Linked DNA regions of Homo sapiens. The protein of the gene in region 3 purifies or fractionates together with the protein of the main gene of each other region. This does not show direct contact. Each region holds a gene or a part of one and is shown on either strand. Other genes may lie near its edges. The genes, in order: PPP2R1B, PPP2R2D, FOXD4 and PPP2R2A.

Region 1 (7,026 bases), on a different chromosome or scaffold from region 3:
CTGGGTTCAAGCAATTCTCCTGCCTCAGCCTCCCAAGAAGCCTCCCAAGTAACAGGCACCCACCACCACACCCGGCTAAATTTTTTGTATAGTAGAGATGGGGTTTCACCATGTTGGTCAGGCTGGGCTCAAACTCCTGACCTCAGGTGATCCACCCACCTAGGCCTCCCAAAGTGCTGGGATTACAAGCGTGAGCCACTACGCCTGGCCTATTTTCCGGTTTTTGTAGTTTAACTTTACACTTACTTAACATCGTCCACAAGCCAGGTCATACATAAAGTCTTGAGAGAATTTTATAAAATGACTATCTGATATAAAAATATTTAGATATGAAGAGAAATTAAGGAGAATATATATACTAACAAGAAGTTAAAATTGTAAAGCAAAATGTTCATGACTGAGGCATGTCACCCCTGCCAGACAGGTGTAAGTCAGCCAAAGACACCATCTGCCTTGCTTTCACACTGCTCTCTATAGAGCTAGCAACCCTGGGAAACTTTCCAGGTCTAGAAGGAGCAGAGGTTAAAAGAAATGGTACTAAAATGCACCCTCCCTTCCAGATAGTTTTGGTCTTCAGCAAATCAGTTAATCACTGCTCCTCTCCACTCTGAAAAGTAGATCCATGACAATCACCAGTGAAGAGAAGATGACCCATAGCACTTGGGAGTGACAGACAAAAAGGATGACAAAATAACTTCACCTGATCCCATTTGCCATGCACTAATACCTCTGGTATACTTTTCAAAGAATCGGACACTTTCAATTTTATAAAACATATAATGCCACAGACATCCACAAATTGCATGTTCATAAACTAAATGTACTAAAATTAAAAATACAAATTCAGGGGTTCAAGACAAGAAAAAATAAATTCCATATGTTGTGACCTGAAAGGAATGGAAGTGGGAGTGAGGAAGGGGAAACAAACTGTAGCGATGTCAATAGTAAACTGACACATCTTTCTCAAAAAATACTCAACAATCAACAAATGTTGGCTATACACAGTGGCTCATGCCTATTATCAGCTACTCAGGAGGCCGAGGCAGGAGGATCATTTGAGGCCATGAGTTCAAGACCAGCCTGGGCAACAGCAAGACCCTGCCCCCAAAATAAAAAATGTTAAGTGCCTAATTAATGACGGGCACTATGGTAGGGACTGGAAATAAAATACAGTCCCTGCCCTAAAAGAGATCACCCATCTCTCCAACTAGACTGTAACAGACAATTACAATACTCTGTAATAAGTGCTACCAACAGAGATGAAGGTACATCAAACTTAGAACTGTCTAGGCCACCTACTCAAAAAAAGGAAAGGATGTGGCTATAAAACCCAGCTTTGAAATTTTAACTAACATGGTATTAGTTAGGGTAACACTGATCACGAAACTCAAACAGTAACAGATAATGTGATAATGTGGACTTTGACCAAAATACTAACATTACAAGCTTCAGTTTTTGTTTTTGTTTTGTTTTTTTTTTTTTGACACAAAGTTTTACTCTGTTGCCCAGGCTGCAGTGCAGTAGTGCAATCTTGGCTCACTGCAGCCTTCGCCTCCTGGGTTCAAGCGATTCTCCTGCCTCAGCCTCCCGAGTAGCTGGTATTACAGGTGTGCACCTCCGTGCCCAGCTAATTTTTGTATTTTTAGTAGAGATGGGGTTTCACCATGTTGGCCAGGCTGGTCTGGAACTCCTAGCCTCAAGTGATTCGCCTGCCTCTGGCTCCCAAAGTGCTGGGTTTACAGGTGTCAGCCACTGTGCCCGGCCTTTCAATACTTCTTTTCTATATGGTGATTCCTCAACTCCCTTTAATCAGAATGTAGGGCAAGTGGTACCTAGGGACATTTTGCTTAGAATACAAGGCAAACAGGGAAGTTTCCTTGAGCAAAAATCACAGCAGACTTACCCTAAAACCATAATCCCTTTTCTTCTCAGTTAAACATTTCTTAAGTCACAAAGGCATTAAATATTATAAAATTTACATTATATATACCAAGAAACTGATTATTCTATGGCTTTGTTTTTCGGTGGTGATGAGGTGAAATATGTTTCTGTAATACAGATTAAGCATCCCAAATCCAAAAATCCAAAATGTGAAATGCTCCAAAATCCAAAACTTTTTGAGCACTGATATGATGCTCAAAGGAAATGCTCATTGGAGCATTCTGGACTTTGCATTTTTGAATTTGGGCTGCTCAACCAGTAAATATTTATAATGCAAATATTCCAAAATCCACTTCTGGTCCCAAACATGCTGGTCCCAAGCGTATTTAGATGAGGGATACTCAACCTATACCTTTTTGTTAGAAATGTATGCACTAATAGGCCAGATGCAGTGGCTCACGCCTGGAATCCCAGCACTTTGGGAGGCTGAGGCGGGTGAATCACCTGAGGTCAGGAATTCAAGACCAGCCTGACCAACATGGTAAAACCCCATCTCTATTAAAAATACAAAATTAGCTGGGTGTGGTGGCATATTCCTGTAATCCCAGCTACTTGGGAGGCTGAGACAGGAGAATCGCTTAAACCCAGGAGGTGGAGGTTGCAGTGAGCCAAGATTGCATCATTGCACTCCAGCCTGGGCAACAACAGTGAAACTCCATCTTAAAAGAAAAGAAACGTATGCACTAACAAACATAAAAACCATCCTATAGGTAACAAGAACAAGGCCATACTTTCATGCATCTAAACAAACATAAGCATACAGGCTACTAGGCCTCCTACTTGCCATGGTAAATTGTCACTATCTGACACTACCCTGCAGTTCATGGAGCAACACATACTCACCAGCTGGCCTGCCAGCAGCGGCATATACTCAATGATGGCCAGGCGGACCCTCCATTTGGCATCTTCTGCCAGCTCCACTATGGCAGGAAGGAGAGACTGAGAGAGCTGACGGATTCCAATCACTTCATTTACACAATCCAAATTGGAGATGATATTCAAACGAACGTCAGGACACTGCAAGTACACAAGCCCCAAAAGACCACATTTAAAAATCAAGTACTCTGCCCAACAGTCTCCTGTCAGGGTAAGATAAAAGGTGAGGTAAGACTCAGGTGAAAAAAAAATGGATAATCTTGAAGAAATAATAGTGAATACATAAATAACTCAAGGAACATAAATGATCTTAATCAGAAATTTCAATTAAAAGTCCGTAATACTAAAGACTACAAGAAAAGTCCGTAAGATGGTAAAGAGCATAATCTCTGGAACTAAATCAGATGCACTCAAATTTCAGATCTGTCATTGTTGAAAGACCTTGCTCAAGTTACTTTAACCCTCTATGCCTCAGCTTTCTCATCTGTAAAATGGGATAATTGGCCGGGTGCGGTGGCTCACACCTGTAATCCCAGCACTTTGGGAGGCCGAGACGGGCAGATCACGAGGTCAGGAGATCGAGACCACAGTGAAACCCCGTCTCTACTAAAAATACAAAAAATTAGCTGGGTGCTGTGGCAGGCGCCTGTAGTCCCAGCTACTCAGGAGGCTGAGGCAAGAGAATGGCATCAACTCAGGAGGCGGAGCTTGCAGTGAGCAGAGATTGCGCCACTGCACTCCAGCCTGGGCGACAGAGCAAGACTCCGTCTCAAAAAACAAAACAAACAAACAAACAAACAAAAAGGGATAATAATAAGACCTACCTCACAGGATTGTTGTGAGAATTGCATGTAAAAATACATGCAAAGCACTAAGGCTCATGCTTGCCATGTAGTAATTACTCAGTAAATATTAGGTATCATTATAATTTTTGATACTATATTTAAACTTAAATAAATGAAACTTTTTAAACAAAGACACATTAGCTTTAAAGAAACCAGGGAGTATAAAGCAAAAATCAGGTAAAGATGATAAACAGATATTTCTAGGTTTACTCTAATGGGTACTTTTGCCCACTTTCTGAGGAACCTATAACCCCATACCCAAAATCACAGGTGTCATTGGTTTAAAATAAGTTATGATTTTTTTATCCATTTTCTTTTTGGGGGTTCTATTTTAATGAAACCCTAAACCAAAATCAAATAAAATCAAATTACTATCAAAGGCAACAGAACATAAAGCAAGACCCACCTCATCCTTTAACTGAGCTAAGAAAAGAGGTAGAAGATGTTCAATGGTATTTTCTTTGCCCAAAATAGTAGACAATCCCATAATTACAGAAGCTAGAGCCGATTTGACATGTTGATTGGTATCGGATACTAATTCCTAAAATAAAATCGAAATTAAAAGCCTTTATTACAAGACAACAGAAACTTCCATACCATTATTCTGGGAAACAGAGTCTTGCTCTGTTGCCCAGGCTGGAGTGCAGTGGCATGACCTTGGCTCACTGCAGCCTCACCCTCCCAGGCTCAAGCACTTCAGCCTCCAGAGTAGCTGGGTCTACAGACATGCACCACCAGGCCTGGCTAATTTTTTTCATTTTTTGCAGAGACAGGTTCTTACTACATTGCCAGGGCTGGTCTTGAACTCCTGGGTTCATGCAATCCTCTTACCTTGGCCTCTCAAAGCGCTGGGATTACAGGTGTGAGCCACCACGCCTGGCCTAATTTTTTTTTTTTTGAGACAGTGTCTCACCCTGTCACCTAGGCTGGAGTACAGTGGCATGATCATAGCTCACTGCCATCTCAACCTCCTGGGCTCAAGCAATCCTCCCACCTCAGACTCCCAAGTAGCTGGTACTACAGGTGCATGCCACCAGGCTCAACTAATTTTTGTATTTTTTGTAGCAATGGGGTCTCACTATGTTGCCCAGGCTGGTCTCAAACTCCTGGGCTCAAGAAATCCTCCCACCTCAGCGTCCCAAAGTGCTTGGATTACAGGCATGTACCACCATGCCTGACCCCAAGGAATTTAAAGACAGCACTATTTCAATACTGATTAGTTGATAATGTTTCCTCAGACTACTTGTTAGGTAACATAAACCTATGCACCAAAGAGCAGTTTACAATTACAATGGGCTAATAAGTGATGAATAACAATGTTGCACATTAACACATCTTCCCCATTCATTCCCTGTCAACCTTTAAACTCAAAGAGCTTTAAGGTAAACAAACAAACAAAAATAATGAGATTAAGGTTTACCTTCATATAAAAGAGAGTGAAACAAAATAAAGTCAGGTTTACCTTTATATAAGGCAGAATTTGATTCATAATTATGGTCTCTCTATCTTCAATGGGCAAGTTCTCACCAAGTTCTAAAAGATAAATAGAAAAAAAGAATGCTTTCACAGGGCCATTTACAAAGAGCCAAATGAGGACATTTAACCAGGTTTATCAATAATTTCAATTAAATTATATGTTTAAGCAAATAAGGAAAACAGCTCTTGTTCTAAATAAACTTTTTCGTGAACTCTCTATGCCATTGCATATCACACCAATCCAACCTGAAAGGCATTTTTTTTTTTACAAAAACAAGACAAAATGATTTCTTGGTTTTAAATATAAAGAGACTATCTTTAAGTGACAATGTAACATTTCCACACACTAAAAACATCCCTATGTATTTTAAAAACATATTCTAGAACAAAAAACATGCAAAATTGACTAACAAAAAAATGCACCAAAATGAATGACACATGTTCCAACATAAATTGAACTCCTTAACCTTTTACTTTGTGGGCAGCAGCTGCCCGGACTTCAGCTTCACAGTCTTTAAGTAGGTTCTGAAAGGCGGGGATGAGGTCATTTAGGGTGATTTTAGGACCCATGGCTTTCTGGAGCTATAAAAGAATTTGAACGGGTTTTAATGTATACTAACAAAAGAATTAACAAGAACAAAACAAAATTGTGCAATCTGTAAATACATATTTTTGCCACAGCACTTCCCATTGAAAAGAATTAATTCAGAAACTTTGGGTACAACAGCAAATCTATGTGTTTTCAGGTTTATTTCCTTAGTACTTAAAAATGATCACTTTACCTCTGAAAATCTGTCAGCCACCATATAGCGAACGCGCCAAGATTTATCTTCTGCTGCTTGTCGAAGTGTAGGCATCACCAAAGTCTCAAGGTCATCCTGAGACAATAACTGGGCAATACTGACACAAGCTTCCACAGCAAGGAGGCGCACTGAATCCTAAAGGAACAAAATTTCTGTAATTCAGACATTTACTGAGACCCATGGGGAACTGCTGTGGGGTGGTGCAGGTGTTTAAAAAAATTAACACCACCAAGACTGCCACACCTTATATAGTTTCACGTCTTGACATCTTTTTCTTTTTTTTTTTTTTTTTGAGGCAGGGTCTCACTCTGTCACCCAGATTGGAGTGCAGTGGCACAATCTCCGCTCATTCCAACATCCGCCTCCCAGGCTCAAGTGATTCTCCTGCCTCAGCCTCCCGAGTAGCTGGGATTACAGGCAGGAGCCACCACGCCCAGCTAATTTTTGTATTTTTAGTAGAGACAGAGTTTCACCACGTTGGCCAGCCTGGTTTCAAACTCCTGACCTCAAATGATCCACCTGCCTCGGCCTCCCAAAGTGCTGGGTGCTGGGATTACAAGCGCGAGCCACTGCGCCTGGCCGTGTATTTATATCTTGAAAGAGCTGCTCCCGGCCGGGCCCAGTGGCTCACGTCTGTAATACCAGCACTCTGGGAGGCTGAGGCAGGCGGATCACGAGGTCAGGAGAGGGAAACCATCCTAGCTAACACGGTGAAACCCCATCTCTACTAAAAATACAAAAAAAATTAGCCAGGCGTGGTGGCGGGTGCCTGTAGTCCCAGCTACTCGGGAGGCTGAGGCAGGCGAATGGCGTGAACCCAGCAGGCGGAGCTTGCAGTGAGCCGAGACTGCACCACTGCACTCCAGTCTGGGCGACAGAGTGACACTCTGTCTCAAAAAACAAAAAGGAAAAAAAAAAAAAGAAAGAGCTGCTCCCTTTGCCTGGAATGGCATGTCAAAGTCATAAAGATAGAAATGACTTTGTACTATGAGTAAACAGCAAAGTAATTACCTTGGCTAGAATGCAGAGTTTCTATAAAGGAAATGAAAATTTTAAAATTAAGTAAAAAAGAAAAAAAAAACATT
Region 2 (7,026 bases), on a different chromosome or scaffold from region 3:
GGGTCACTTCTGCCCAGAGCCTGGGTGTCTCCTCAGAGGCTGCCAGCACTGAGTCCCGCCAAGAGCCACCCGTTGCCTCTGCCTCTGTGCGTGAGACCTGGGCTGAGGCCGCCAGCACACAGGAGGCCATTCCCAGCTGTTGGAATGAGCTCCTGTTCATGTTGAGCTTGGCTGGATTGGAAGCCACTTCCCTTAGCTGAAAGTCTAGCATTTTAATCCAGTGAGCTTTCAAGCTCCTTTTAGGTGAGGGAGGTTCTGGTTTTGTTTTTATTTTTAGCCATAAAGAATGGGCTTGACTTTATAGAGCACTGTAGTCAGCGTGTCCCAGTGTCCTGAAACATTGCTGACCCTTCCTCCAGTGCCAGCAGGTAGACACACGTCCAGTGACTTCCTCTGATGGGGAAGCCGCCAGTCAATCCCACCAGACTGAGCCGCTGCTCATGTGCAGCGGCGCCCCCAGTGCCTCGGTGGAATGTGCCCATGGACCGTGTGCAGCAGCCTTTTCGCCTGTTCTCTTTCCTGAGGTTGAGTGTGTTTTTAAGAATTCGTATTTCTACTAGAATTCCTGCGATGAGGATGAGTGTTTCGTAGCATTTGGCCTGTATCTTAAGCATAAAATTCTTGAGTAAATAATTTCAGATTCCAGTTCTATTTGTCATCAGAGTGATTTATTTGAGTAAATGCTTGGCGTCGGCACAGCTGGCTTCAAGTTAATTTCAGATGCTAAGCCGACAAACACAGGCTCCTGCATCAAGAAAAAAGAGAAAAAACCTAAAGCAGCTTCAGGTCAAGGAAGCACAAGCCAGGTGCAGTGGTGCTCACCTGTGGTCCCAGCTACCCTGGAGGTTGAGGCGGGAGGATCTTTCTGAAAATAGGAATCCAGTTTTGTCACAGTAGAGCTTGTGTATATTCAGTATTGGAGACAAACCTTGGCTGGCTGGCTTTGACCGGCGGGACCGTCTTGGTGGTTAAAATCAGGACCACAGCGTTGCCAGTCAAGGTGGTCACTCCTGCAGACCCACAAACTGTCGACCCTCCAAAAAGCAGGCAGTTTCTTAGAGGCACAGACCGCTGTGTCTGCATGACCATATAATGCTGTTTGTGTCTTCCTGTGATGTGTATGCGATAGAATTTCACGTGCTCGGGCCTGGTGCCATGAGGACGCGGAGACACTCCTACAGGAATGCGGTGGTGCTGAACCTGGGCACACATCAGGATGCCCCGAGGAGCTCCCACAGATGGCAGTGCCCAGGACCTTGCCTAGAGATTCTCATTCAGGGTCCGGGTGAGACTTGGGCGTCTACGCTTCTCATGCCCATCCCTTGTCCATAGCTGGTGCTAGAATGTCTTATCCGAAGCTCTTGCCCACGGAAGTCACAGAAGATCAGAAAACCTAGAGAATCAGAAAGATCAGAAGACCTAGTGTTGAGGCCAAGCCCTTCCAGAGTCTCTCTGAAGGGGCCACTTCCTACTTGAACTTGAAAATGATTTGTTCTCTGATTTTTAAACAGAAGCTGAAAACATTTTATTTTGTTTTTCAGTTTTTGAAGAGCCTGAAGATCCCAGCAGTAGGTCCTTCTTCTCAGAAATAATTTCATCCATATCCGATGTAAAATTCAGTCATAGTGGGCGGTACATGATGACCAGAGACTACCTGTCGGTGAAGGTGTGGGACCTCAACATGGAGAGCAGGCCGGTGGAGACCCACCAGGTCCACGAGTACCTGCGCAGCAAGCTCTGCTCTCTCTATGAGAACGACTGCATCTTTGACAAGTTTGAGTGTTGCTGGAACGGTTCGGATAGGTAAGGCCTGCGTGGAGATGAGCTGTCGCCCCAAGCTTGCTGGTTTCCGAGAGTGCAAGGTCAGTGAGGGAGGCGAGCTGTCCTCCAGCGTCAGAGGAGGACGCTCATAGGGTGTTGTTTTCCAGACCTTTTGATTGATGGATGATAGTATCAAGGTAGAGAAAATAGGATCTCTGAGCAAGTTTCTCACCTAGCTTGTCATTCCATTTATATTTAGACAAGAAGTATAGCACTAGGTACAGGCCGGCTATGTGTTAAATGCTTAGTGAATGATAGTGTATTACTTTTTATTATGCTGATAATGAGTGAAAAGGAAGGAAGTGGGGAAGTGATTCACCTCACTGGAATGACCGCGTTGCAGTCTGCCTTTCCTTCTGGAGAGAAGTAGATGAAAACACCCCAGAGCCACTGCCTGTCATGCCCAGACACAGCGTGGTCATGGCTGGTCTGAAACACCAATGTAATTTATAATGTGATGGTTCTAGTACCTTGATAATTTATTTTGTATACATTCTTTAAAGATAGCTATGATTAGTGTGGTTGAGAGTTACGTTTTTTTTATTATGCAAAAAGTTACGTTTCAGATGATGGAAGATTGTCTTGCACCATTTTTATATAGAATTTTTGTTCAGAATTCAAGAGAACAGAGGAGTCTATTGGCAATAAGTGATTGACTGGATATTCTGCAAAACCCTCTGGCATAAACACCTAGAAATGCTGGATATGATACAGCAGGTGTCTCTTCAGGTGCATAGTTGAGCTCACAGATAAGCAAGGGAAATCTCACAACGGCCAGAAACTAAGAGGGAGCTGAAACCAGAATGGCAGCCTCTGAAGGCGTCTATTCCGAGAGCAGCCTTGCAGCCCCGGCTGGCCTCAGGAGCATCAGCCCATAGCAGGAACCACTGCCCCTGTGAACAGCAGGTTATGGTGCAAAGCTGAAGCCTTGTCCCACACGAGGTGACTTGCTCATGGTGGCTTTTCCTGTATGTGCTTGGTAATTTTCAAGAGCTGAAGCCTTGGCCCACACGAGGTGTAGAGTTGGAACAGGGACCCCTGAAGATGGTGTCTCCCTCCACTGGCAGATAGGGTCCAAAGGGCAGTTTGTCTGTCTGAGGCCTTGCATGGGGGTGGCCAGCACTGCCCTGAGAAGTGGAAGCAAAACCTCCCCTCACAAGGGTTTGCAGTTTGGGTTTGTGCCAGCTACATCATGATCTGTAAAATCTCACACTGTGGAGCTCCTGCCTCCACGAGGGCTGTGTGCGGGCATCGGGAGGGACCGGCGTGTTTCCAGATCTGGCTTCTACTCTGTTTGCAGACTGACCTGCCAGCCTGTAGCATCTCACGGATGTTGACTGAAGACATGAGGTTCCCGGGTTCTCATGGCACAGCTGGCAGCATGAGCCTCTCGTTGGCCTGGGTTCCCCACGGGTGGACACTTGAGGCCGTGGCTGATGCACACTGAGCTTGGAGAACCCCACTGCTTTCACAGCGGGCAGTAAACACACCTGCACTTTGACTAGAAGAGACATGACCTCATTCCTCAAGGCCGCTTGCTGGAAGCACAGCCCTGAGAAGTGGCCCAGGTGGAGAGAATGGCATTGGCAAACTCCGTGAGAACACGCATGCTGGGTAGCTGCTGCCAGCACACCCAGGTCTCTCTGGATTTCGTCACATTAAAATCATCTAAACATGAGCTCACAGGTGAAAATTACCAAGCACATACAGGAAAAGCCACCGTGAGCAAGTCAGCAGAACCACAGCAGAACTGAACCTCCGAGAAGGCAGCTGTTGAGATCCTAAGTTAAAGAAGATAAACTAAGAATGCTTGAGATATTCACAGACTAGAGGAAGGAAACAGCCTGAACCAGGAGCCACATGACCGCTAAACGTGACCTGGAGACTGGAAAGGAATCAGAGGGAACATCTAGAAATGACAAGTATGATACATGACCGCCAAACATGACGTGGAGACTGGAAAGGAGTCAGAGAACATCTAGAAATGACAAGTATGATACATGACCGCCAAACATGACGTGGAGACTGGAAAGGAGTCAGAGAACATCTAGAAATGACAAGTATGATACATGACCGCCAAACATGACGTGGAGACTGGAAAGGAGTCAGAGAACATCTAGAAATGACAAGTATGATACATGACCGCCAAACATGACGTGGAGACTGGAAAGGAGTCAGAGAACATCTAGAAATGACAAGTATGATACATGACCGCCAAACATGACGTGGAGACTGGAAAGGAGTCAGAGAACATCTAGAAATGACAAGTATGACAGATGAAACTGTGTGGGTTTAGCAGCAGGTCCATTTTGGCTAAACAGATCTTGTATTAGTGGATGGAAAGGAAAACCAGAAGAAATGCGGGCTAAAGAGCCAAACAGAAAACAAGAGACACTAGGAACCGTGGAGGCCAGGGTGAGGCACAGCACACGTTTAAACAAAGTTTGGGGGTGTGAGGCTTAAAGTGACAGTGGCCAGCAATTTTCTCTAAATTATGAAAGCCTGAATACACAGGATCGGGAGCACAGCATCCATCCATCTCATAATGAAATTGCAGGACACCAAACGCAAAGAGAATATCTTAAATGCACCCAAGGAAAAAACGCAAATTACCTCTGAGAGCGGACACCGAGACTGAGACTCGGCTTTGCCACGGCCACAGTGGGAGCCAGAAGCCGTGTGACAGATCCAGCAAGTGTGACTCCTTACTCTCCACCGCCAGCTTAGAATCAAGCCTTGAAGTAGATGCTCGTTCAAGAATCTGCTTGTGATAAAGGCATTTTCAAATGGGAAACAATGTATCACAACAGGAAACTCAGTAGAGCGAGCTGTAAAGGGAGCCTGGCCCTGCAGAAAGGGGCTGAGACAGATAGGCAGAGGAACGCAGCCTGCAGGGAAGAGCAGTGCAAACTCTGAAGCTCTGCCACCTGGACGGCCTTAGTTATCTGTGTTTGGGGGAGAAAAATTAGAGCCCTCACCAGCCCCACACAATAAATAAATAAGCTCTGAGTGTTTCTAAGCCTAAGACATCTTTGTGAGCTCTGGAAACAAGGGCTTCTTTAAGAAGGCCCCAAAAGCCCAAGGAAAACATTAAGAAATTCAACTACATTAAATTTTAAACTTCTTTATATTGAAATTAAAAGTGAAAACAAAATCCACAAAAGGATAACGAACAGAGATTAAGTATCCAGAATAGGTGCAGAATTAGTTGTCAACAAGAAGGTGGCAAACAACTCAGAAAAGAGCAAAAACCATGAATGGGGTTTCGCAGAAATGGAAAAATAAATAGAAATGCTCATCCTTCTTAGTGATCAGCAAGTAAAGCCAGAGGGACGTCCTTTCATGCCCATCAGAATGATGATGGTTTGGGGGAGAGGGTGGAGACCAGTGGTCTTACCCAGTACCCTTCTTGTGACCTCCTTGGTGACATTCAGTCGGGTTGGGAGCTTCTTGCATGTTCAGACAAGAAAACGTGCTCAGATACCTGAAATAGCAAACAACTGGAGACAGCCCACAGGTGCATCATTAGAGGAATGGACAGGTAAGTTGTTCTCTATCATAACATATACTGAAAAGCAGTGAGAATCAATTATTAGAACTACATGGATCACCTAGGTGGATCTCACAAAGATAATCCACAAAGAAAATTCAGGAGGAATGCGTACGGTGCAATGACATACAACATGTTTAAGACATACAAGACGGTTTTGTTTTAAGAATCTGTAACTATTGGCCAGGCGCAGTGGCTCACACCTGTAATCCCAGCACTTTGGGAGGCTGAGGAGGGCGGATCACGAGGTCAGGAGTTCGAGAGCAGCCTGACCAACATAGTGAAACCCCATCTCTACTAGAAATACAAAAATTAGCCGGACATGGTGGTGCATGCCTTTAATCCCACCACTCAGGAGGCTGAGGCAGGAGAATCGCTTGAACCTTGGAGGTGGAGGTTGCAGTAAGCTGAGATTGTGCCACTGCACTCCAGCCTGGGCGATAGAGTGAGACTCTGTCTCAAAAAAAAACAAAAAAAATCTGTATACAAAATATAAATGTGTGTGGGGATGACACATATGTACTCTAGCAAGTGAGGACCCCAACTGGGGATGGGATAGGAGACCATCTTTCTTTCCAGAGTGGCAACACAGTGCAGGGGGGTCCCTGTCTTAGCAGTGACTTGCTGGTGTGCAGAGGGGTCACTCTCTTAGCAGTGACTTGCGGGTGTGCAGGGGGTTCACCACCTTACCAGTGACTTGCAGGGGGTCCCTGTCTTAACAGTGACTTGCGGGTGTGCAGGGGGGTTCGCTGTCTTAGCAGTGACTTGCGGGTGTGCGGGGGGGTTCACTGTCTTAGCAGTGACTTGCGGGTGTGCAGGGGGTTTCACTGTCTTAGCAGTGACTTGCGGGTGTGCGGGGGGGTTCACTGTCTTAGCAGTGACTTGGGGGGTCCCTGTCTTAGCAGTGACTTGCGGGTGTGCGGGGGTTCACTGTCTTAGTGACTTGCGGGTGTGCGGGGGGTTCACTGTCTTAGTGATTTGCATGTGTGGGGGGGGTTCACTGTCTTAGTGACTTGCGGGTGTGCGGGGGTTCACTGTCTTAGTGACTTGCGGGTGTGCGGGGGTTCACTGTCTTAGCAGTGACTTGTGGGTGTGCGGGGGTTCACTGTCTTAGTGACTTGGTGTGCGGGGGGGTTCACTGTCTTAGTGACTTGTGGGTGTGCGGGTGGTTCACTGTCTTAGTGACTTGCGGGTGTGCGGGGGGTTCACTAGTGACTTGCGGGTGTGCGGGGGGTTCACTGTCTTAGTGACTTGCGGGTGTGCGGGGGGTTCACTGTCTTAGTGACTTGCGGGTGTGCGGGGGGGTTCACTTAGTGACTTTCGGGTGTGTGGGGGTTCACTGTCTTAGTGACTTGCGGGTGTGCGGGGTTCACTGTCTTAGTGACTTGCGGGTGTGCGGGGGGTTCACTGTCTTAGTGACTTGCGGGTGTGCAGGGGGTTCACTTAGCAGTGACTTGCGGGTGTGTGTGTGGGGTTCACTGTCTTAGCAGTGACTTGCGGGGGGGGTCCCTGTCTTATCAGTGACTTGCGGGTGTGTGTGGGGGGTTCACTGTCTTAGCAGTGACTTGCGGGGGGGGTCCCTGTCTTATCAGTGACTTGCGAGTGTGCGGGGGTTCACTGTCTTAGTGACTTGCGGGTGTGCAGGGGGTTCACTG
Region 3 (7,192 bases):
CCCCACTCCGTCCCCTGACGCCGAGTAACACTTAAACCTTTCTAGTTGCAAAGTCTTTTCAGAGTTTTTTTTTTAGGAAATAAGTTTTGAAAATTCTAGTGCTTAAAAAATGTGTATATATATATATATATATATATATATATATATATATATATATATATATATATATGTATATTTATAGCCTTTTATTTTCCCTGAGTACATGTTGGCCACTACATTCCAAATTGATCTCAAATGGTTTTCCAGCTTGTTGGGGGGTGAGGAAAAATAAATGGAGAATATATTTACATGCCCTCCTATTCATTCTTTTAGAAGTCTCATAAATAGTAAATTTCCTATTTTAAAAGCCAGGACATTTTCAACCTCAAATATTTGGAATTTTTAAAGGCCATATTAAAATGGATTACTTCTGCTATCTATAATAAATATGAATTGTGAAAATAAATTGAGGGAAAATAATGTAGGTTTTAAAAAGTTCCATTTAGAAAGGGAAGAATGAGACGTAATAGAAAATAAACGATGTAGTGTAGTGACTTAGCATTTTATTTCGTCTATATAACTAGGCTTAATTTTAACACCTTAATTTTAACATTAAAGATGGCACGTCAGACACACAGATAAGAAATCAATGTTCTGAAATTAATATCCTACTTACATTAAACATCCCTATCAGGAAGACACAGAGAGTAGAAGCATTTTGCACTAGACTTAGGAATAATACTTCCAGTTCCAAGGAAGTGAAGAAGGGGGAACATGTTTGGCATCGGAGGCTGTGTTTTTGTTTGCTTGCTTGTTTTTCTTTTAATGCCAGAACAAAATACCCCACTCACGTTCATAGTACCCCAGGACATGTGCAAATCGGGAAAGCCACAGAAGCCACAACCGAAGGCAAGAAAAGATGACTTGACGCCCTGCGAAGGTTACGTTCAGGTGGTTTTTAGAGGAACGTAATCCAGCTGTTTCTTTCTAACCATTTTGCAGGGAACAGAAGTTCGTGTTTGCTCTCCAGCGGGATTCAGATGCACACGCCCAGTATGGGCCGCGCAAGGTGGAGTGAGCAGCTGCGGGTCGCTCCCCACTCCCACCTGGCTCTAGGAGGGCCCTGCGGACTCGGCCAGGGAACTGGGCGTGGGCGATACTAAAAAAACTGGTGAGGTCCCCTCTCCGCCCAAAGGGGCGGCCAGCGATGTCAGCCCAGAGCCCTCTGCCACCGCCTGATACCGCAGCAGCGCCGACGCGGCCGACAGGTGCCCGCCCAGCACCGCGCCCTTGGTGGGAGCGCAGCCGTTGGCGCAGTCCTCCTCCTGATGCCGCTGCTGTTGCTGCAAAATTGTCCGACAGGCTTGACGGTCGCTGGAGCAGGGGGCAGTAGCTCCACGCGGTCGGGGACAAACTCTGCGCAGCCCCTGTACCCGCTCCCCTGACCCCTTGCATGATACTCTCAATGCTGAAAGAGATGCATCCGCCTCCCGGTGGCGACGCCAGACCCTTGCCCTCCTCCCAAGGCTGAGGACCAAGTGAGGGCTGCAGCACGGGAAGGGTGCCGGGGTCGCCAGGTCCGCGCCTTCTGCTTTCTTCGGTGCCCCGGCATAGGCGGGGGCCGAGAGCAGTAGGTAGCGAGGAGGATGCGGGTGCAGCAGAGCGTAAGGGCGTCTCCCGGGGCCGGTGTTGGGGTAGGCCCCCGGGACTGGCTGCGGCGGGGCAGGGGCCCCAAGCAGAGGGCCTGGGCGGGGGTTGTGCAGGGCGGCGTGTGCAGCAGGTAGAGGGAAGGGGTGGGGCAGGTGGGCTCCCGGGGTCGGTTGGTGGCGCTGGAAACGCTTCCTACGCCGGAGAAAGCTGCCATTGTCGAACATGTCCTGGGAGGCGGGGTCCAGGCTCCAGTAGTTGCCCTTGCCTGGGCGGCCCGGCTCGCGGGGGATCTTGACGAAGCAGTCGTTCAGCGAGAGGTTGTGGCGGATGCTGTTCTGCCAGGCGGGGAACTTGCGGCGGTAGTAGGGGAAGCGGTCACTAATGAAGGCGCAGATGCCGCTGAGCGTGAGGCGCTTGTGCGGGCTTTGCAGGATGGCCATGGTGATGAGCGCGATGTACGAGGAGGGGGGCTTTGCCGGCTGCCGGGCATCTTCAGAGGCCGCCGCAGACCTTGGCGGTGCCCTGAACTCGGTGCCAAACTCTGAGGGGTCGCTCGGGCCGCCGCCGCCCTCGATGTGCTCTCGGGGAAGCGCAACCCCGCCCCACCGGGCCACCTGCAGCCCCGGCTGGAGCGACTGCTCTAGGAACTGCTGGCTCGCCGCCTCCTCCTCGTCTTCATCTTCCTCCTCTCCCAGGACATCGATTTTACCGTCTTCCCCATCGGAGTCCCGGAGGCTGCGCTGCGGTGTGGAGCGAAGGCGCTCAGCTCTTGGCAAGTTCATGGCGGAGCAGGTGCTTCAGTCGCAGGGGATGTGGCGGCCGGATCACCTGGCCCCGGCGGGCTGAGCTGGAAGCCCGGGATGAATGTTGCAAGAAGCAGGAACGCTAGTGGTTACCCTTTGGGATGTTTTCCTCTGCTTGTTTCTACGCCTTTGCAACAACGTCCGGCAAAGATGCCTTCGCCTTTTATAAAAGCTTCTTCAAGACCATGTGTGGTGGACGCCTCCCTTTATAACCCTTCTTCCCCTACCTCGGAGCGGTGCCACTTCCTCCTAACGTAGTCCAGGGATGATGGTCTTCTGGGCAAACACCGTCCGGAGAAAAGCCCAGCGCCCTCCTCCTCGCACCCACCTGCCACCAAGGAAGATGCTCTACTCATCCGGTGCAGCCAGACAGTAGGCAAGCCTTTGCACGGGTTCTGTTAAGGCGCATTTAAACCCGCGCAAATAAAAGCGAGGTAGGAAAGTAGGATACTCAACATTCTACGACCACCTCGACATGCAGCCTTCCCGCCTGGAGAAAAGAAATGGTGGGGTAGGAGGCTGAAATGTACACGGTTGTTTGTAAAGGAATGTGTAACCGTGAAAGTATGTTTTTGTGTTTCACAGCTGGTAATCACCCATTTTCATTGGTAGAGTCTGTCCTTACCCAGAATGGTGAGCTGAATTATATTTAAGGTTCTGACAATATTCCCAGGCTTCAGGGGGGTGTTGCTTTGCTCCTTCTACCTTCCTTCCCACCTCCCCAAGATGCTCTCCCTGACTCAAATTTTCAGAAAAGGTTCAAATGTCCCAGCACTAAATTGTGTAAGTTTATTCAGGGAAGGCAGGAGAGCTCACACGGAGTCCTCTGTCCCCTTGTAGCAATGGTTCTCCAATTTCTTTGAATATTTAACCACAGAAATACATTTTATATCACAATCTTACACATACAGACATAATACATAACTAAGATGGCTTTCACGAAACAATATACTTACACTATAGTGATCACTGATATTTCCTTTTAAAAAAAAATGGCCATAACCAACTAAATTGATTTCACACATACCAGTATGGGCCCAGTTTGAAAAATCCTGTTCTTACAAAGTGGCCCCACATACAAGAAATGCACCCACTCTATAAGGGCTTCTCTCTCTCCCTTTCCTCCTTCCTTTCTTCATCCTTTATAACCAATTCATTTTTAGAGACAGGGTCTATGTTGCGCAGGCTGGCTTTGAATTCCTGGGCTCAAGTGATCCTCCCGCCTCAGCCTCCTGAGTAGGTGGGACTACAGGCGTGCCACTATGCCTGGCTCTGGCTCTTCATTCTTTTTTTCCTTTTTTTTTTTTTTTTTTTGAGGCGGAGTCTCGCTCTGTCGCCCAGGCTGGAGTGCAGTGGCGGGATCTCGGCTCCCTGCAAGCTCCGCCTCCCGGGTTCACGCCATTCTCCTGCCTCAGCCTCCCAAGTAGCTGGGACCACAGGCGCCCGCCACCGCACCCGGCTAATTTTTTGTATTTTTAGTAGAGACGGGGTTTCACCGTGTTAGCCAGGATGGTCTCGATGTCCTGACCTCATGATCCGCCCGCCTCAGCCTCCCAAAGTGCTGGGATTACCGGCGTGAGCCACCACGCCCGGCCTCTTCATTCTTTCAGAAATGTCAACATTAAGTGCTTTTACTGTAATAAAACTTGGGACTTCAATGAGGCAAGAAGGGGCTGCAGTGTTGCCTTTAAATCAGTGGGTCCTCATTCACTGTCTGCACTGGGGAGGGGCAATATGACAGCACAACTGTTCATCTCACTCGCTCCACATCCTTAGAAGTAACACGATTTTTAGATTGGCTTCATGAAAATTAGCTCAGAGACTAAAGTAGCACTACAGAGGAATAAAAAAAATATTTGTTATATAAATAAGGATCTTATTAAAATACTAAGTAAGATACTATGCCACGGTATATATTCATAATTTAAAACCCACCTACTTGGGAAAACTTTGAGGTGCCATCTAATAAAAATGCAGCATGAAAGAATATTATGCCCTTGATAGTCACATAGTGTCTATAATTATGACAATGAATGTTCAGTGAGAAATCAAACGCCAACTGCAAGGGCAAAATATAATAAAAAATAGCTTAAAGTAGCTAGTGCCTTCAGGATAAAATCTGGAAAAGGGCTTTCTTGCTGATCTTTTTTTGAAACTTTGCTGCTCCTGAAGTTTTTACCCTTTAAGGCTCCTCAGTTTATATGAAGCTTGGAGGACAAATAACAGACAGGTTTGAGCCTAACAGATTTGTTTGAATCCCAAATTTACCAATGACTGCTTGTGTGACCTACTAAACTAAGCTCCAGGAGGGCCAGGCCAGGTGTCTTATTCAACCACAAAATCCCAGCGCCCCCAGCATGTGAGGCAAATTTCCTCCATCAGCATAGGAATCGGATGACCTGGGAAAGGGAGTATTGTTAGTTTTCCTAGCGCCAGCTTCAATAGGGATTGGGGTTATTTAAAAATACAGGAGAAAAGTAAGGAGGCACTCAAAAACAAAACACAAAACCCACATTGATGGGGGTATGTCAAAGGTGGGAACAGGAGATAACGGAAAGAGTTCCCAATGGTCAAAGCTGGGATAATTTGAGCAACAAAATAAAGCAGTATTAAATTGTAACCCAAAGTATAAAATATTCATGTGTCCACACTGATAAACATAAATGATCGAACTAATAAAGCGAAAGGGACAACTGTCCTTTGCAGAAGAATTTCAATTAATCATGTAGACCACTCCCAAGAAAGTACACTACAACTCCCCATTCCTTTAGTGTGGGCTGTGCATAGTGATTTCCTTCCAAAGAGCACAGTATGAAATGGGGGAAAAGAGTAACTTTACAATGGAGAAACCTGACAAACACTCCTTCAGCCAGGTGATCAGGTCGTCAACATCAACATCAATAACAGTCATAACCTTTTATTTCATGTCATAAAATGGTGACACTTACTTGTGTTAAAAAAATTTAATAACAATGTAATCATTATATCTCTGCAATCAGCTGAAGTTCTAAGAAAAAATGACAATGTTGAAAGTTGTATCATCATTATTATAAACTTTCATGTTCAGTATATGTAAACTCCAAAGCCAATTTCAAAAGATATTTTTGTGAAATACCATTCTTTAAAAAAAAGGATATTATATATAACTGTATGAATGTTAAATGTTTTACAGTACTGATTTGCTACATTTTATGTATGCTGTAAAACAAATACCATTTTAAAGTATATTGGAATTCGTAACTAAAGTAATAAATAAATGCTTGAAATATACCCAGTAGAAACTTATTTTTATTATCCAATCCTTTTGATAAGAAATGCCTCTAGTGTTATGTACAAACTTGATCTTCTTGGAAACGTGTTGTCCACTGCTTTTCTGTTTCTGTCACAGTAGCTATAAACAGCTGTTTAAGGATATCCTTATCTAAATTTCTGCCTGCAAACAAAACAAAATATGACGTGATTACATTATGCTTATTAAAATGACACAGTTCACCTATCAATTCCAGTTCATTAAATGCTTTATGGTGTTTAGAAATTTACAAAAAGAATAGTAATTGAGTGATTCCATCTTTAACTTTCCAGGTCAGTACATCAAAGTCACATTGGTCCTTGGATTAACCACTTTTCTAAAACTGAAGAAGAACAAAAGTCCTAACAAGCTTTTACGAACGTTGTAACGTGATAAAGATGAAACATTGACCACAAGCTTATTTAGTTTTAAAAGAGGACCTGAATGGTTAATCTGTTTAAGTGGCACATGATATCCCTTTCAAATATATTTTTCACTTTGTTTTAAAACTGTGAATCCTTTGAGACTTACCAAGGAGGACCAATCGATTTGTTCTCTCAGTGTCATCCTTCCAGCTCACTGGAGTCTCCTCCAGATCATAGAGCTCATGGACACCCTGGACAATCACTTGTTGTGATTTGTCTTTGATTGACACCAATCCCTGCTCAAAGGAGAATTGACTGAACATTAATCAGCCTCAGTTCAAACTTAAAAGCAGAAATAGAGCATCAATGTTAATGGATTAATTACTGATATTCACTTAAAAAATACAAACTCTTAAGCTGAGAAAATTACTTAATTCCAATTATTTGTGAATTACAAGAAGTTTCTTAATGTTTTTAATTTTCAAAAAAGGTTTCTGTGTATTGATTTTCTTTTTGAACAATCCCCTTTTCTAATGATAAAGTTAATACATATATTAGGATGGTTTTTCAGTGTTATTTATCACAACCAAAACCTGAAACAAAATGATGAAATATGTATCATATCCTATTGATTAAAGATTTTATATAATGTTTCACAGTTTTCGTGGGAAAAGTTGAGAAGTTAAAGGAGTTTGGTTATATTAAATAATTTGTTTTAGAAATGGGTTGCAATCAATGAACAATGATGAAATAAAGAAAAACTATTATATTTATCTGAATATGAGCTCATTGTGTATTGATTTGCAGAAATGAGAAACGAATTATCTGATAAACTGGCTCCTATGGGGATGAAATTAATTTATTTGAAATAATATTCTTAATTTACCAAAAACTTTGTGCACACTTGTGAACACACAAGAGTAGACACTCAACTGACTGGTTAAGCATACACTTTAGAATCACTGCTTCCTAGAAGAAATACCTTTCATGACTTAAATACCCAAATATCAAGTAACGTGAGTGGGTTTCTAAATACAGAACAAGAATTCTTCTAGTCCTTTGTAACTTTGTTTAGAGTATGACAAATGTTTAGTGTCTGCTAAATG
Region 4 (7,026 bases), on a different chromosome or scaffold from region 3:
TTTTAAAAACTAGCCGGGCGTGGTGGCCTGTGCCTGTAGTCCCAGCTACTCAGGAGGCTGGGGCAGGAGGATCGCTTGAGCCTGGGAGGTTGAGGCTGCAGTGAGCCATGATCACGCCATTGCACTCCAGCCAGGATGACAGAGCAAGACCCCGTCTCAAAAAAAAAAAACAAAAAAAAGAAAAAGGAAAAAAAAAAGAATGGCATTAGCTGAAAATTCAACAAATCTCCAAATTATATTTAATTACTTCAAAATAAAAAGTATCTACTAGGCATTACAAATAAACCTTGTTATAAACAGGAGTTGCAGTTCAACATCAAACGCCTTCACCTGAACTAAAAGGAGATTAAGTTTTGAAATAAAATTATATTAGGAAAAGTGAAAGGTCTAAGGTAAGAATCCCAGCTTCACCACCTGCTCAAGATTATACAGTTAATTAACTTTCCCACCAGTATCTACTTATTTCACAGGGTATTTGTGAAGAACAGTAAATAAATAGATGTAAAGGACCTAAAACAATGCCTGATACATAGTTAAGCACTCAAAAAATGTAGGTACTCAAGATGGCCATGCCATGCCTTCCTTACAATGACTATATAGCAGTTTATTTATAGAAAATCTAATTTGCACCTAGGCTTTTTCTTTTCTTTTCTTTTTTGAGATGGAGTCTTGCTCTGTTGCCCAGGCTGGAGTGCAGTGGCACGATCTCGGCTCACTGCAACCTCCACCTCCCAGGTTCAAGCAATTCTTCTGCCTCAGCCTGAGTAGCTGGGACAACAGGCGCGCACCACCACACCCGGCTAATTTTTGTATTTTTAGTAGAGACAGTGTTTCACCATATTGGCCAGGCTGGTCTCAAACTCCTGACCTCGTGATCTGCCTGCCTCCGTCTCCCAAAGTGCTGGGATTACAGGCGTGAGCCACCGCGCCCCGCCAGCTTTTACTTTTCTTTCTGTCTGCTGAGGAAGCACCTTATGGATACTTGATTACTTAATTACAAATTCCATCATCACCTTAAAGGGCAACGAGATTACAGTTGAGGATATTAACTAAAATTTTTTAGCTATTTCCAATCCTTCAGTTTTCCTATTTAACAGCATTAAGAAACGTACCTTTCTTCCTACAATCAACTTTAAGATAAACTAGGCAAACACTTATATGCAAATACGTAACATACTGTAACCTCTTCACTGATTTAATACATTTTTGCTTCAACCTCTCATCATTCTGCTTATTCCACAATTTTCAAGAACTTGATTTTAATATTTTGTTCACTATTACAGAGTACTAAGAAACACCTAAGGCTAATTTTTGTTTTATTTTAATAACATGACAAAATGTCAGCAATATGTTTTCAATGGCCATTCTCTCTCATAATTTTTTGTCAAATGAATGTGAAAAAACTTAGTATTTTAAAACAAAGCAAGAAAACTATTTGATGCTAAACAGATACTATCATTCATGGTATTTAATGGGTAAACTTACACTACTACTTTAAGTGACTGTACTGAGTGAGGTCTACTAGACTTCAGTAGTAATGCTAGTGTTAAGAAAAAGAAGTGTCACATGTCATACAAGGTAAGGATATTAAATAAGACCTTTACCATAGGTCATTAGGTTTCGGAATACAGCTAATGTGCCACTATTTTTAAATCCACAAAACAACAGGGTTCTACTTTTTCTACTAACTTACCTTACTGCCTAAATCTAACATGCATACTACTCTAAGAAACACAGAAGACGGCCTGGGCAACACAGCAAGACCTTGTCTCTAACAAAAAAAAAAAAAAGAGATGCAGAAGAGAAATGATTTTAAATTGTTTACATTATAGCATTAAACATATGGAATGGACTAAAACCATTAAATTGTGTGAGATATCATAATATGGACTGTTTTTCAAATTTTTACTTATGTCCTTATTTGGGGCATATTTTAGCCTCTACCATTTAAAAAATATTTTTTCAAGACCCAGTCCACAAGGCTAAATCCTACCAAAAGTAAACAGAAAGCAAAGAGTTGAAAACACACAATGTACTTGGATCCAAGTTTCATAAAATAAGACTTTATAAGATAATATCCTAAAATAATTTCCTGTGAAAGTTTAAGACTATCAAATATGCAGATGAGGTTCATTATTAAATATTTAATAACATCTGATATTTTAAGATTACTAAACAATGAAAAATCTACATTAAAATAATTAAAATAACTATCTTGAATGGTTAAGTTGTTCCTTTTTTTTTTTTGAAACAGAGTCTTACTCTATTGTCCAGGCTGGAGACCAGTGGCACAATCACAGCCTAACTGTAGCAGACCTCTCAGGCTCAAGTCTCAGCCTCCTTAGTAGCTGGGACTACAGTTGCACACTGCCATGCCCTGCTAATATTTTTAATTTTTGTAGAGAAAAGGTCTCACTATGTTGTCCAGGCTGGTCTCAGACTCCTGGATTCAAGAGATCCTCTCGCCTGGCCTCCCAAAGTGCTGGGATTACAGGCGTGAGCCACTGCACCTGGCCTGTTCTATTATTTTGACCAATTATTACACACTTCAGATTATCCACATGTATTTGAATTTTTAATAATTTATTTCCACAAGTAAAATTTAAACACATTATCAAAATCATTAGAAAAAATTTCTTACTGTTCGACTTTAAGAAATGAACTTGGCTTTCTATTTTGTTAAATTCAGATTTTAAAAACAAGTATTACATTATTAAATAACAAAAGGATGGGAAAGGGTCCAGTGATGGAACCATACATGGGGCAACACTGGCCATTGACAACGCCGGGTGACAGGGGTTCATTATACTATTCCACATACTTTCTGTAATGTTCCAGATTGATTACGTTTTTTAAAAAACCAAATAGTCAAATTAACAAACAAGCAATTACTGTATTACCTTGAGGATGAAATAAACACTGCAGAGCACTACTGGTTCAGCAGAGAATGTGTGCGTGGTCATAACAATTTAAGCACTGACGTCCAATTTAATCATAGTGTGTGATGTAACATCGGGGCACAATGGGGACAGAAATGGGGGTGATAATGTGAATAGCTTAGTTATCATCTACTAGAGGAGCAAGTCAGCTGGAAATACTAAAATTGACAAGATATAGAAATACCATTTTATTCCCAAAAAGGAAATGAAGCACCAAGGAACCCAGCGGAAGAGTTGAACAACTGCTCTTAGGAGATGGACTAGGGATTAAGGAGTGGGGAGGTAGGGGACTGCCATTTTTCATCCTAAACCCTTTAATACATTATTAGATTTCCAAAAACTTCTTACTGTAAAATGTAACAGATAAAGAAAACCAAAAATTGAAACAAAAATGTCCAGGTTACTCTTTACAAACATCTGTACAACCACCATCCCAGTCAAGATAGCCCACAAGGGCCTCCCCAGCCCTTCCCGATCACAACTCCTTTCCAACAGCTTAAGGGTAGCCACTATACTGACTTTTATAGTACTTTTTACAGTATGTTTTTTTCCTTTTACTTCATAGCTTTTCTTCATAGTTTTACCAGCTGCATATGTGCCTCTAAACCTATAGCTTAATTTTGAATGTATTTTGTAATTTACTAGTGGAATCAAAGAGTATGTATAACACACATATATGCTATTTCCTTCACTTTGAGAAATTTTTAGTAGGCTTTAAAGACAAATCCTCAATATACTCATACTCCAAAGACTCTTCCTTCAAAGTAACAATAATATGAAGGTTCAAGTAATAATATCTAAATCCTCATAAGGCTCTTTTCTGCTGGGTACTGTTCTGTTTTATGTGTATAAACTCATTTAATCATCAAAACAACACTGTAAGACAGGTTTTATTGTTATCCTCATTTTATAGAGGGGAGCTAGGCACAAAGAGATGACCACAGAAATGATAAATGACTGAGCAAGATTCAAACCATGTAGCCTAGCACCTGAGTCTGTGCTCTTAACCTACTGTCTCATGACAGACAGTTTTCAATAAAAGAAAAATTAAAAATGTAAAATATATTACTAGCAATAATTTATTTTTTATTTAAGGCCTCTAGAGAGTACGGTATCTCAAACAATCTAGCTTACCAGTAGTATTAATTACCAGTAGTAATAATTTTGTGGCCGGTGGCTCACACCTGTAATCTCAGCACTTTGGGAGGCCGAGGCAGGTGGATCACTTGAGGTCAGGAGTTCAAAACAAGCCTGGCCAACATGGCAAAACCATCTCTAATAAAAATACAAAAATGAGCCGGACATGGCGGGGTGCACCTGTAGTCCCAGCTTCTCAAGAGGCTGAGGCAGGAGAATCACTTGAACCCGGGAGGCTGAGGATGCAGTGAGTCGAGATCGTGCCACTGCACTCCAGCCTAACAGAGTGAGACTCTGTCTCACACACACACACACACCAAAAGAATTTGGGCTGTTTTTACATGCCTTTGGAAATTAACAAGATTAAAGTACAAGGAAGAGCAGAAATCACCTAATCCACTCTTGTTATTCCATTGCTAAACACACAGGAACCCAGGAGAGTACTTATCCCCAGTGACATACACTAGTTTGTGCTGGAGCTAGGGTAAAAACCCAAGGTCTCCTGATTTCTTTGCATTATACGGTTGTATAACATCAATCTGGTTATAAAAAGCCTACCGATGATTCTGCAGAAAGCGTTTTAAATTTTTATTTTAAAAAGCCTACCAAGTAAATAAATCCATGACTGCTAGAACTACATCTCAATCATCCTGCCTTTTACCATTTCTCTTCCCCTTTCAAAACCTAAGAACAATAACATTTACGTTCCTTCATTCAAACAAATATTCAACTACTGTGTGCCAGGCACTGTTCTAGACAGAGCAGCTTCATGCCTGCATAAGGTACGAAGATAAATCAGTCCTACACTAAACTCTGTAGTATGTAACAGTAGAGATGTGGGGTACCATATGATATCTACGTAACAAAGTGCTATAAAGGAAGACTTTAAAAATAGGTTATTTCCAAAAGAGGAAATTAGCAAAAAGGTTAAAGGCGTGACTTGAGAGATGAGCAGGATCCTGGTAAGAGAACTGTGGGATGATTGTCAGGCATTCCAAGGTGGAAGCAGCAAAAACAAAGACCCTAAAGTGAGAGAGCATAGAACGCCTTTTAAGAACAGTATCTGTTTAGCTGGGTCATTAGCCATAGCAGCAAATAAACTGAGAGCAGAGGCCATATTGGGCAAAGGTCATACATTCTAGACTGAGATGTTTGAACTTAATTCCTAATCCAGTGGATACAGTGATCCACTTGTAGACTTATGAGGAAAATGACAAAACTGGGACTGCATTTAAGATTAACTTTGAAGCAAAACAGGACGAAGAAGCAGGGAATAATTTAGGAACTTACTGCAATCTGGATGAGGGAGAGTGCAAACCTGAATAGAGGTGAAAGCAGGTATGCAAAGAAGATTAAGGCATTACAGAGTAAAAATGGTATGCCCTGGCAGCTGACTGCATGTAGACGGGAGAAAGGCAGGCAATATGGAGACAATCAAAATGTATCATTAACAGAAAACAGGCAAGTAAAAGTTGAGCTACATGTAACCTGTTGAAGAGATCAGTCTAAAGGTAGGGGGGTGGGGAATGTGTTAATAACCTTATTTTACTTCAGAAAAGCAAATCTCCCCTTAGTCAAATAAGCAAGACTATAATATGCAAACTCTAGTATGCAGAAATATCCAAATTAAAGCAGTGTCATTTGAAAACTGGATTATTTTTATACTTAATACATTTGTACAGCAATACCTATTAGAACTAGTCATATTTTTACTAAGATATGTTATCTTACTAAAATGTATATACCAAGTATCAGCATTTTACGATGCTAAGAATATGCTTACGTTAAAATATTTAACAACCTCTAAAGAAAATTATTTAACCAATCAGTAGAAAAATGCAGCTACTAAGTATCAGCAAAGGGGAACTATAACTGATTTATCTCCTAACTTCACGTCAATAGGTTCTTGAAAACTTTGACTTTGTTTTCTGCTCAGCATCTTTTGTTATGGTATGGATAAAAAATGGTTTTGTTATAAGTTGCTTTCTTTGCTTAAAGTCACAGAACCTATTGACATTACATTATTGACAGAACCTATACATTAAGGGAGGACTTAATGTATATCACAAGTTATTTGGTTCAGGTAGGTAAATGATGTTCACTTTGAACTATCAATTTCTTCTGATTAAATAAAAGCCATGTGATCTTTCTGCGTAATGTTTAACAAGCAAACTATGAGCTCCTTGTGGGCAGAGTTTATGTTCCAGACACCAAGTACCCTCAGTGCTCAGCATTTAGGGGAACTTTCCTAAGGGAATAAATGGAATTCAACCAAAGAACATTTTCCAAGTATACAGCACTTTCATAACTTGGTGAGTATTACACAACTGCACAGAACTAATGATCCAATACTGGAGTGTTTACTATTCAACAGGTAATGTAGTTACAACATGAGTAATACACAACTCCTCCCTTGAAGTCAGGACTTACTTCTCTGAACAAGTCAAACACCACTGACTTCATCAGAAAACCTTGATTTACACTATGTGCATGACCATCAGTCAGTCTCTTTTGTTTCTGGTTTCTCATCTAAGAAACAGATGAGGATCCAATAGAAAAGGAACGTGAGAGAGCTCTGCAAAATATGACAAGTATAATCTACACCAGTTGGCTTGCCATAGGATTCACCACACTCTAAAACAGACAATTAAGGATGACACTGACACAAGCAAATAAGAGAGTTCGGCTACCACCCACCACCTGAAAAAAAATCTCCAGAACAAACAGTACCCTACAGACAGGTCAGAAATATGAGGACAACACAATCTAGGGAAAAAAGGTTTATGAATTTTCACCAAATTTTTAAAACTCACAAGTACATGTTTAAATTTATCTGAGTTTTGTTTGGAAAATTCCTACTGTAATTCAAGACACACAATACCATTAAAACTCAAACTTCAACATTTCTCAGGAATGAAACAATGCAACAACTTTGTGGAAAATGCCTCCG

The links.
Region 1: the proteins of FOXD4 (region 3) and PPP2R1B purify together in Homo sapiens (co-immunoprecipitation; 3 studies listed by BioGRID and IntAct, with this or other methods). This does not show direct contact.
Region 2: the proteins of FOXD4 (region 3) and PPP2R2D purify together in Homo sapiens (co-immunoprecipitation; 3 studies listed by BioGRID and IntAct, with this or other methods). This does not show direct contact.
Region 4: the proteins of FOXD4 (region 3) and PPP2R2A purify together in Homo sapiens (co-immunoprecipitation; 3 studies listed by BioGRID and IntAct, with this or other methods). This does not show direct contact.

What each region holds. Positions count from the first base shown.
Region 1 is NC_000011.10:111,749,375-111,756,400, forward strand, and holds part of PPP2R1B (serine/threonine-protein phosphatase 2A 65 kDa regulatory subunit A beta isoform), read right to left. Parts: intron 6,077-7,026; coding exon 5,921-6,076; intron 5,721-5,920; coding exon 5,606-5,720; intron 5,196-5,605; coding exon 5,125-5,195; intron 4,204-5,124; coding exon 4,069-4,203; intron 2,959-4,068; coding exon 2,785-2,958; intron 1-2,784. UniProt on the Homo sapiens protein: The PR65 subunit of protein phosphatase 2A serves as a scaffolding molecule to coordinate the assembly of the catalytic subunit and a variable regulatory B subunit.
Region 2 is NC_000010.11:131,945,989-131,953,014, forward strand, and holds part of PPP2R2D (serine/threonine-protein phosphatase 2A 55 kDa regulatory subunit B delta isoform), read left to right. Parts: intron 1-1,541; coding exon 1,542-1,803; intron 1,804-3,121; coding exon of another isoform or gene 3,122-3,158; exon of another isoform or gene 3,159-4,416; intron 4,417-7,026. UniProt on the Homo sapiens protein: Substrate-recognition subunit of protein phosphatase 2A (PP2A) that plays a key role in cell cycle by controlling mitosis entry and exit. Involved in chromosome clustering during late mitosis by mediating dephosphorylation of MKI67.
Region 3 is NC_000009.12:115,709-122,900, forward strand, and holds FOXD4 (forkhead box protein D4), read right to left. Parts: upstream 2,710-7,192; 5' UTR 2,412-2,709; coding exon 1,092-2,411; 3' UTR 523-1,091; downstream 1-522. Other genes in the region: ZNG1A (zinc-regulated GTPase metalloprotein activator 1A), read right to left, coding at 5,759-5,865, 6,253-6,382.
Region 4 is NC_000008.11:26,294,483-26,301,508, reverse strand, and holds part of PPP2R2A (serine/threonine-protein phosphatase 2A 55 kDa regulatory subunit B alpha isoform), read right to left. Parts: intron 1-7,026. UniProt on the Homo sapiens protein: Substrate-recognition subunit of protein phosphatase 2A (PP2A) that plays a key role in cell cycle by controlling mitosis entry and exit. Involved in chromosome clustering during late mitosis by mediating dephosphorylation of MKI67.